2 separate regions of the Homo sapiens genome follow, and region 2 is linked to region 1. The links come from fine-mapping of genetic effects on gene expression. A gene starts in region 1. The other region holds a variant in brackets. All regions are shown on one strand. Distances are between the middles of the regions.

What was found.
Region 2: its variant is fine-mapped to the expression of NRG1 in whole blood (INTERVAL, PIP above 0.99).

The regions. Positions count from the first base shown.
Region 1 is chr8:32,545,609-32,550,989 of GRCh38, reverse strand. NRG1 (neuregulin 1) reads right to left here and starts at 2,679. Exons shown (of 12, transcript NM_013964.5): 1 at 2,164-2,679. The coding sequence starts at 2,263.
Region 2 is chr8:32,572,913-32,578,293 of GRCh38, reverse strand. All of the region lies in intron 1 of NRG1 (neuregulin 1), which reads right to left. Among named protein-coding and RNA genes, the nearest start is that of NRG1, 27 kb to the right of the region's middle. The variant C/A (reference allele first, on the strand shown) is at 3,016.

The DNA of each region.
Region 1 (5,381 bases):
AAATAAAGAATACATATTCTTATCTGGTTTAAAAAGCACAAGATGCTTCGAAGGGGGTAAAAAGTCCCTCCCCAAAAAAGATTATAATCTGGTGGAAAACAGAGACAAATATACTAAAAACTAACCTACAGCCAAATTCACCCCAATTTTTCAGGGAAGACAGTTAAGCAAATGTCACTTAAAGATACTGACTTAGCTGGTTTACAGGGAATCACTGCTGTACCACTGGAAAGCAGATGAGAGCCACCAAGGAAGCTCTGGTGCTCTGTGTCAAGAGAGCGTAGCTAATCACAAGACAGCTGCCTACCTAGTAGATGAGATCTGGAGGGCACAGAAATGCCTGCCCCTCCCCCACTGAACTTGTCAAGTTGCTGTGTTACGGTACTGCTGCTGGGAGCCCTTGACAAAATGCACACCTATTACCTGAACAGGATGCTACTTCAGACCGCTGGCCCCTTCTTAATTCATTAGACCATCTACAGAGGACCACAGAAACTTCTTCTGAAGCCAATGAGCAGGGAGACAGGAGAACACAACCACAAACAGTGATAAGAGCCCCCAAAATAACTCTTTACAACGATTTGAGCTAGGTCTGAAATCTCCGTAATGTACTATGATGACCTTAGAAAGGACAGTAGACAAAGTCACGCAGGGAGGTAACTAATCCAGCTCCCCAATTTCCTATCTTGTTGAATAAAGTGCTATGGTCTCTCCCCAAAATATAGGGTAAAAATAAGGGAAAATTCAATACACCCTCATGAGGGGCAATGATCAGTAATTGAAGTGAATATGATCAGCAGGATCTTATTAAAGAAGCAAGCACAAGAATGGCCAGTGGTGAAACAATTACTCTCTGTTCAATTTCTGTTTTGCTCAAAACTCTGCTGAAGGTCTCTGCCAATAACCCAGGTTCTGAAATGCTATCAGTGATACCAGTAAGAAGACCAAGCAAATGTGGTTTGTTTTCTTCCAGCAAGGGACAAATACTTCTACAGTATTACTGTAGCCACAGTATTATCAAGTACTAGTGAATTAATTCTGCAGAAGTGCTTCATGAAATGTGTGTTGGGGGTACGCTCGAAGCGACTTAAGGCATCTGGATCAATTAATAATTGGGAATTGCAGAGGCAAAAAATAAATTCTCCCCCATCTCCTTCCTCCCCTCTTTTATCAGCTACCTACCAATCACTCATAAACAAGTATTTATTCGACATGCCTCTTTTGTCCAAGGTAATGTCCAAAGCATCAGCGCTTCCTAGGGACATCTAAGGTAAAGCTTTTGTTCATGCTCGTGTTCTGATGATGAAATACAAGATTTGTTTCTAGAAAGCTTCAATTGCCATTTTATTATATAGATAACCAGCAAACAATTGGGTTCAAAAATTCAGATAAACGGTTGTTTTCTTACATCTCTTGGGAAAGTAAATTATCCATATTTATCACAGAGGTCTTGAAAAATAGAACTGTTAAGCCAAAAGTTTGTAGAACTTGTTTGGGGCAGAGCTGATTCCTGACACTGGACTAGATTTCATCTGCTTCGCTGACCTTTAGGAATCCCTGCCGCTGCTCTTGAGTCTCCGTAGCACAGGACTGAATCAAGATGAACCGGCGCGCACTCTACATCGCTTGCCCTGTGCCCCAAAACGCCGAAGCTAACTTCCCACGCGGCCTCTTGCTCGACCACCCACTTCTGCGCTGCCAGGCACACCGAGGGGACCGGCTCTCCCTCCAGGCGGCCCATTCCAGCGTTTCCCGCTAGAGGGCACACGGCCCCCGTGCAAAGCGCTTATGGCGCGGGGCACGCGCGCACGCAGCCTCGACTCCTATAGCCCAGGTCCCACTCCCGGGCTGGGCTCAGCCGCTAAGGCGCTGGGGAGGGGCCGTGCCAGGGAGCGAAGCGCTCCCGGGACTCTGGGAGGGTGCGGCCGGGACTGCTGTCCCTTGCCCTGAGCTCTGGGCGTAGGCGCCCGGTAGGACTCGGCGCCCAGGTGAGCGGCGGCCCCCAGGAGGGGAAGCACCGCGCGACTCAACGGGCGCTCAGAGCGCAGGGCGAAGAGGACGGGCGAGGGAGAGGGGGAGGGAGAGGCCACGGCATCCGAGGAGGAGGAGGAGTAGGAGGAGCAGGAGGAGGATCGTGGGGCCCGGGCCGCGCTGCGCACCCACCTGGGCTCTGGCTGCCCGCCGCGGACTCCGGCTTCTTGCCGGAGCCTCGCTCCTTCTTCTTGCCCTTCCCTTTGCCTCTGCCTTCTTTGCGCTCGGACATCTCGCCGGAGACGGAGCGCTCTACGCGGACGGCTCTCGGCGCAGGCGAGTTTGGTCCAAGGGCTCGGATCGGGTTTGGGAAAAGTTTGTCCCTCGAGGGGGAGAGCGAGCGGCCGCGCTGAGGCGCTCGCGCTGCGCGGGGGCGTCTCCCGTTGCCTGCAGGGAGCGCGGCGCGGACGCGGCGGGCGGTCCGGCCACCTGGAACGGGCGCTCGCCCTGGCTCTCGGGGCTGCTCCTGTCGCCCCGGGAAGTCGTCGATGGGTCCCACCGCTGGCGGCTCGCGTCCTGGCCTCTGCCCGGCGCCCTCGCAACCCGATCGGGGAGAGGTTATCACCGTCCTGCTCACGCTCCCATCGTCCGGCAGCCGCCGCCGCTCAGCTCCTGGCCTCCGCGCGAGCCCGGAGTTCCAACAAGTTTCGGGGAACTCCTCGCCGGCTCTTTTTCAATTGCCCCGCAGCCACCCACCTCCCGCCCGCAGGTTGGAGGCAGGCGCCTCCTTCGCACCCTCCCCTGGCCTCGCCCCCTCCCTCTTCCCCACCACACCCCCACCCCGAGGCGCGGACACGCCACCGGGAGGAGCCTGGGCTCGGCGCTCCCGGGCGCAGCCCCTTTTCCTCCCGCGCTGGCCGGGCGGGGGGTGGCGGCGCGGCTGCCGGGAACCCCCGACAGGGGTCGCTGGACGCTGCGCGGAGACCGAGGCCAGCGCCCCGGAGACCCGGGAACCCAGGCGGAGACCCGAGGCTCTCGCTGCCCGCTCCCCTCCGCAGCCAGGCAGCGCCTGGGAGGGCTGCTCCGTCCCATTCCACGCGGAAAAGGACGGCGCAGAGAAAAGTTTGCGACTCCCACACCTGTGCCCCAAGCAGAGTCTCCGTGGTCAGGAACCCTGGGAGGGGTGCGGGGGGAACGTTGGTGGCTTTCCCAGAAGAGTTCGGGGTTCATTCCTTAACTCACTTAAGTACAAAAGCCCTGTCGCACGCAGGCGAAAATAAACTCTAGGTGGAAGGGAGTTTAAGATAAGGCTTCCTTCCAGGTGCACAGGAAGGGCTAAGCGAACCTTAAAGATGCTAGGTTGCGCTCTCCTGCTGGGTCTGCGCCGTGTGCGTGTGTGTGTGTGTGTGTGTGTGTGTGTGTGTGTGTTTAGTAAGTGCCTGTTAGAAATCTTCAGCTTTTCCTTAAAAAATAACCTGGCCTCTTCTAAGGGGGTGCCCTTAAACTACGTCTCTTACTACAACTTAATTTTCAGAGGAACTGATAAAAAACATAGTTCGGAGCACGACTCAGAATAATTAAAATTACTGCAGCCGCTGAAAGTCACTCAGTTCTGCCGAGTGGAAAAGCAGGCAGGGAGGGGTAGAATAAAGACACAGAACTGGAGATCCTTAATTCGTGAATGTGGGGTTTCTCAGATTCAAACTTTACTCAGAACTGCGCGTGAAACCTACTCCTTCCCTTGTCCTCCCTCTGGTGGAGAATTCTAAAGAGCAAGGAAATAAGAAGGCATTGACCCCTCCCCTGCAAAGGACAAAAGTTAAAGACCAGGGTAACGGGCACCACGGAAGGATCCAGAATTGTCTACATGTAGAGAAAACATTCTCAGAGTTATACCACAGCTGTGGTTAACTTAGACTCTTAATTTACAGTGAAATACTCTTGTGTTGTGGTCGGGAAGTGGTGAGTTGGAACAATCCATATTCAAAATCTATTGCTTCACTTTAAAAGTGACTTGCTCTTGGTTTTCCATTTTCTGGGGTCAATGCTAACTGAACCATTACCTACACACTACCTTCTCACGGTATTTTCTGATGGCCGCAATTTAAATAAAAGTGCAGTCTGGAGTGTCTCCTTGATATGTAGATGGGAAGGGAGGGAGGGAAATATGTTCACTTTAAAACTGTCCTAAAATCACACTAATTTTATTCTAGTTTAATTTGCACTGTCATAAGAACGAAACTCTGTTGAATGGGTTTAACTGTGGAAAGATATCCTAGCAGTCTTGCCATCATTATTTATAGTTTAAAAGTTTGATGTCCAAGTAGCTTCTGATAGCCTTCCTACAAACACCAAATATAAATTTCACTGGGCTATAAAGACAGCAAAAGCAGAGAAAAGATGATGAATATATCTCAGTAGCACTATTAATATTCCACAGAGACGTATGCAAGATGGAGTCTGAACACTGGCTGAAATAACTCTGTTTTCCCAGGAGGGGGCCACTGCTCAGTAAGCAGGAAATAGCAAAATTCAGAGAAGTCCTTTCAAAACAGATATTTTGTCCCAAGGATGTGAGACAGCATAAGGGCTTAGTATACACTACCACATATTCTCTAACATGGCATTATGTTAGAATTGAAGGACTGAAAGCAAAGATGTATTCTGGGATTCTTTTTTAAAAAATAAGATTTTCCCCAATTAAAAAAAAGAAGCTCAAAATCCATTTCTATGGAAATGTTGTAATTCTGCTACTTTTGTTTAGGGTCTGGATGTTTTGCTTCAACAAAACAGCTTACTGGTCATTTTTAGAGTAATTTTTCAGTGAGATAGGGGAAGAGCCTACGATTTTGTGATACATTTTCATTTGAATGAACCTGAAGAGGTAGTTGACAGTCTTCCAAAATTAAGCATACATGACTACAAAAGAGATTACAGATACTATGGTGGCTTTAAGATAAAACGTAAAAGCAGGATTCCTACAGGAATTTTAGGGCTGAGGAATGAATGAATATGAAGGGAGGGAGGTGAGTATAAATGAGCATTTAATAATTGTTTTTCCTTGGTTTGATGTGATGGAGGGGAAAAGACAGGACAAAAATTGCAATGATAAATATTGAAGGGACTTTAAGGAAAGATGATGAAATGGCAATTGCATGACAACAATCCTTTCTGGAACCATATCCAGATTCTCGAGTTACATTTTAGTTATCACTTGTAGCTGAATTCTCAGGAAATTCAAGGCTCAGTCCAAAAAGGTTTTTTTCTAAAAATCGTTAGGTCTTTATGTTATTTAATGTTAATTTTAAGGGGTTTTATTACATTATTTATGGCCAGCTAAAAGATTAACCAAATAAATGTCCATTTCTTGGACAGTTAAAACATTTATGAGATTTATCAAGAATTTGATA
Region 2 (5,381 bases), 27 kb before region 1:
GGCCGGGCACGGTGGCTCATGCCTGTGATCTCAGCACTTTGGAAGGCTGAGGCGGGTGGATCACGAGGTCAGGCATTCCAGACCAGCCTGGCCAACATACTGAAATCTTGTCTCTACTAAAAATACAAAAAATTATCCGGGCGTGGTGGCAGGTGCCTGTAATCCCAGCTACTCAGGAGGCTGAGGCTAGAGAATCGCTTGAACCTGGGAGGGAGAGGTTGCCGTGAGCTCAGATGGAGCCACTGCACTCCAGACCAGGCGACTGTGTGAGACTCCATCTCAAAAACAAACAAACAAGCAAACAAAAACCTCCATGAGCTAATAGGCCCATAGACCTGCCTTCCTTACTGCAAGTGGTGGCTGGTTTTCTTGCTTCCAGAACCACTTCATCTTCCTTTTATGTTAAACTATCTGGAAAAGCTGATGGCACAGATGAAGTTACAAAGACAGCTCCTCATTTTTGTAAGAAGTGCTATAATGATGGTACATAACAGTTTAAAAAAAAGAGAGAGATGGATAAAGAAGTTAATACTGATTTCTGCTAGAAGAAAATGTCCTCAAGAACCAAGGTCTCGAAAAACAAAAAAAAAAAGTGTTAAGGTTTAAGGGTACAACGATTTAACTAAGTTGTTGAGAATAAATGTTGTTAGAGCCATAACTATGCTAGTTTTTTATTAGGTTCATTGTTATTCTTGTTGGTGTTCAGTTTATAGTTTCGTAAGTTTTGAATTCTCTTCACCTAGCCCTACTTTTTCCAGAAGCCTCTTTATTTTGTGTGTCATTTTGCAAAATGAGTTTTGTTTTGTCTTGCTTTGTTTTTCCCAAAAAATGCAAGCATGGAGTTACAGCAGAAATGTCTGTGGCAGGACAGGGACCTGTCAGTGGTGTTGCAGACAACTTCCCCAGGCCAGAGGTTCCCAAACCTATAACTGTATACATAAGTCACTTGAGCAAGTTTACTAAAATGAATATGAAATATTCATGGAACCCATTGAAAGACTCTGATTCAGTAATTCAGAGAAAAGCCTAACAATATGCTCTTTTACATGGAATCAACCTAGGTGCCCATCAGTGGTGGACTGCATTGAGGAAATGTAGTATATACACACTGTGGAATATCATGTAGCCATAAAAAGGAATGAAACTGCATCCTGTGTAGCAACAGGGATGCAGCTGGAGGCCATTATCCTAAGCGAATTAATGCAGGAACAGAAAACCAAATACTCCATGCTCTCACTTATAAGTAGGAGCTAAACATCAAATACTCATAGACATAAAGATGGCAAAAACAGACACTGGGGACTACTAGAGCAGGGAGGGAAGGAGGGAACAGGAGTTGAAAAACCAACTATTGGGTACTATGCTCAGTATCTGGGTGATGGGATCATTCGTACCCTAAACCTCAGCACCACGCAATATCACTCATATGACAAACTTGCATACGTAGGTTGAATATAAAATATAAGTTGAAATTATTTTTTAAAATAATATAAATATAAATATAAAATATAAGTCGAAATTATTTTTTTAAAAAGAGAAAAATATAGGGAAAAAAGAATCTGCCTTTTAAACAAAAGCATCGCAGGCGATTCTCATACAGGTGGTTAGTATGGGCACAACTTTCTCATAAATATTACACTGTGCCAGGGGCAGCCCTCTCCAAAAGTTATATGGCATTTACAGAGTTAATGTCCACCCCATAAAGTCTTTCCAGTAAAAATGTTTTGTTTTGTTTTTTTAAGAAAAAATGTTTAAGATTTATTGCCCTGGGTAAATTATAGGGAATTGAGACTTAATTTCACTTCTGAAAAAATTCAGAATCTTGTAGAAAGAGACAAATGAAAATTATGGTTCAATTGGCATTGGGATAGTTATCTACAAGGCTCAAATTGTTAGCACTCATATTCAAAATAATAGCCAGGAGTCAATACAGGGTTTAAAAATTATTTTTTAAAAAACAAAAAAAGAAGAGAAAATGAGGGAAAGAGAATCAAATATTCCAAAAAGTTTCTCCTGAGCTAGACACCTCCTTCCATTTTTATGTGTCATGTGAGATGGACTATTCTCTAAGGGCTGAAAGTAATTTCATAATATTTAAACAACTGATTTAAAATAATTACATTATTTGAAAATTGCTAAGAGAGTAGATTTTAAATGTCCTCACCACAAACAAATGGTATGTGAGATGATGACACGTATGCTAAATAGCTTGCTTTAGCCATTCCACAGTGTATGCATATTTCAAAACATCACGTTGTATACCATAAATACATACAATTTTGTCAATTTAAAAATTAATTAAAAATAAATTTTAAAAAATAAAACACATATTAATCAGGAACACATTTATTTTGGAGAATTCCTATGAAGGTTGCTTGAAGATACTTTTTTCCTAAACTTTAGAGCTATGTAAGACAAAGAACCCATTTTAAATTTGTGCTTTCTATAAGACTAGCATATCTGGGTCCTCAGATTTAAATGACCAGATCTAAAAAATAACAGTTAAGAATTATAAAAGGTGTAAGAACTGCCATTCCCAGACCAAGTTTCACCCTTATTAGAACATTCAAGCCTTACATTGGTGTCACCATTTAATCTTTACAAGAATACTCTCTCAAAATTTCCTACTTTATACTTATTTTCTAGGTAACCATGAGCATTAAATGCCCACAGGGATATTATTATCTCCAGTGTAGATCTCTACTTTAAGATCCAGACTTTGTTAATGTTGCTTGTCTTAAAAAGTATAAATATCCATGCAGTTGAGCAGTCCTAAAATACAACTTTTCCTTTACTCATGCCCTATCTCCAGCCCACTACAAAGTTTAGTTAATTTTACTACCACCCACCCCCACTTTCCCATCCCCAACCCTTCCAGGAAGGGAACTTTTATAGTATTAGGCAATAAGCAGAGCCGATGAACTAGTAATTAGTCAACTATAAAGCAACCACAAAAGTAGGAAAGAAGAGAAAGAAGAAGTAGGCCAACCACAAGGCAATTGAACATGAAGTGAG[C/A]TAAAACATGCATCCTAGAAAAAGAGGAAGTAGCCAAGAATGACATATCATGAAGAATGGCAATGCCTATCATGAATGTCTATGCCAGAGGGGTATGTCCAACCAGTATGGACACTAAGACAAAGGTCAATTGTGAAACCTGGGGAAAAATCTGAAGCTGGAGTTAGAAGAAGAGGTATTCCTAGGGAGCAAGGAATGGGATTTATGATCTGCTGTTCAGCTTTATTCTATGTTTGGCTTTAGATTTGTCTAGGGTTTACTTCTGTTCCTGAGTCATCTGGAGTTCCCTGAAAGCAGAGAACTCCATGCTTTCAAGGTTGAAGCATAACTGATTCTCTCACAATCTGGCATTCTGAACAGGATTGAAGGTTCAGAAATTCTATGTACTAACATAGGAGAGTTAGGTGGCAAAGCTGTAGTGTAAACTCTATGAAACAAAGATTACACATTGTGTTAGGCCATTCTTGCATTGCTGTAAAAAATAACTGAGACTGGGTAATTTATCAAGAAAAGAGGTTTAACTGGCCCACAGTTCTACAGGCTTTACAAGAAGCCTGATGCTGGCATCTGCCAGGCTTCTGGTGAAGCCTCAGGGAGCTTTCAATCATGACGGAAGGCAAAGGAGTAGTGGGGGACATCACATGGTGAAAGCAGGAGCGAGCAAGCAAGAGAAAGAGAGAGAGACCACACACTTTAAAATGACCAGATCTTAGTCATTATCATGAGGACAGCACCAAGGAATGGTGCTAAACCATTCATGAGAAATCCACCCCCATGATCCAGTCACCTCCTACCAGACCCCACCCCCAATATTGGAGATTACAATTCAACATGAGATTTGGGTGGGGAAAAATATACAAACTATACCACACAGTGATCTGATCAAGCACTGAATTTGAGATTTCTTAGAATTATATATTTGGGTAAGTTTATTAAAAGCCTTTTGAAGACCTGATGAAATGAGAGAGGGAAATGAGGCCTGGAGAATGTAAAATTAGAGACATAATTACGGAATGTCTCACCCACTTGGAATTTGAATAATTGCATCTACCCAACCAGATTAGTAATGTATAAAATCTTCTATCCTGTTTAAATTTGAGAGGTTACAGCATTATGCTCCTAAGATCTTTAAAAGGTCATGCTGCTATAAAGACACACGCACATGTATGTTTATTGCAGCACTATTCACAATAGCAAAGACTTGGCACCAACCCAAATGTCCAACAATGATAGACTGGATTAAGAAAATGTGGCACATACACACCATGGAATACTATGCAGCCATAAAAAATGATGAGTTCATGTCCTTTGTAGGGACATGGATGAAGCTGGAAATCATCATTCTCAGCAAACTATCGCAAGGACAAAAAACCAAACACTGCATGTTCTCACTCATAGGTGGGAATTGAACAATGAGAACACATGGGCACAGGAAGGGGAATTTCACATACCGGGGACTGTTGTGGGGTGGGAGGAGCGGGGAGGGATAGCATTAGGAGATATACCTAATGCTAAATGACGAGTTAATGGGTGCAGCACACCAACACGGCACATGTATACATATGTAACAAACCTGCACATTGTGCACATGTACCCTAAAACTTAAAGTATAATAATAATAAAATAAAAAATAAAAATAAAAAGGCCTTTGATAAACTTACCCAAATACATAGTTCTAAGAAATCCTAACTCAGATTCCTAATGAAAAGACAGAACTGGCTGGAGAACATAAGCAACGCCAGGTAAAGAAAAATTGAATATTGCTACAGCAAATGGTAAGGATATATATTTTATGTCAGGATATTGGGATAATAGTATCTCTTCAAGGAATATTATAGAGCAGAGGTCAGCAAAATACGGCTCATAAGCCAAATCCTGCCTACCATCTGTTTTTGTAAATAAAGTTTTATTGGAGCACACTTGCATTCATTTGCTCATAAATTGTCTGTGGCTACTTTTGTGCTACAACTGCAGAGTTGGGTCTCTACAGAAATGTTTGCAGATCCCTGTTATCGAGTCAATAAGTCATCATGGAACATCTGTAGAATTTCATCTAGCAATAAGTATTGGCAGGTTTCATAAAGACAGACAGCAGAATGGGAATAATCCATGCAGGGTCTGCATTTTGAGGTCTATGAACAAACTGGATATACAGAGTAGAATATTCAGAATGTTATCTGAGAATGCTAAGGGAACTAGAACCCCATTCAGATAAGGAGAAGAAGCTAAGATATACTTACGATAAATGTTGCCATTACTCGGTTCAGGCAAAACATTGTTTGCAAGTGGGGATAGGATATACAGATTAGGAAAAATGGTGGCGAAATTAACCTCAAAGTCAGAAAATAAATATGTCGCAAATTTGT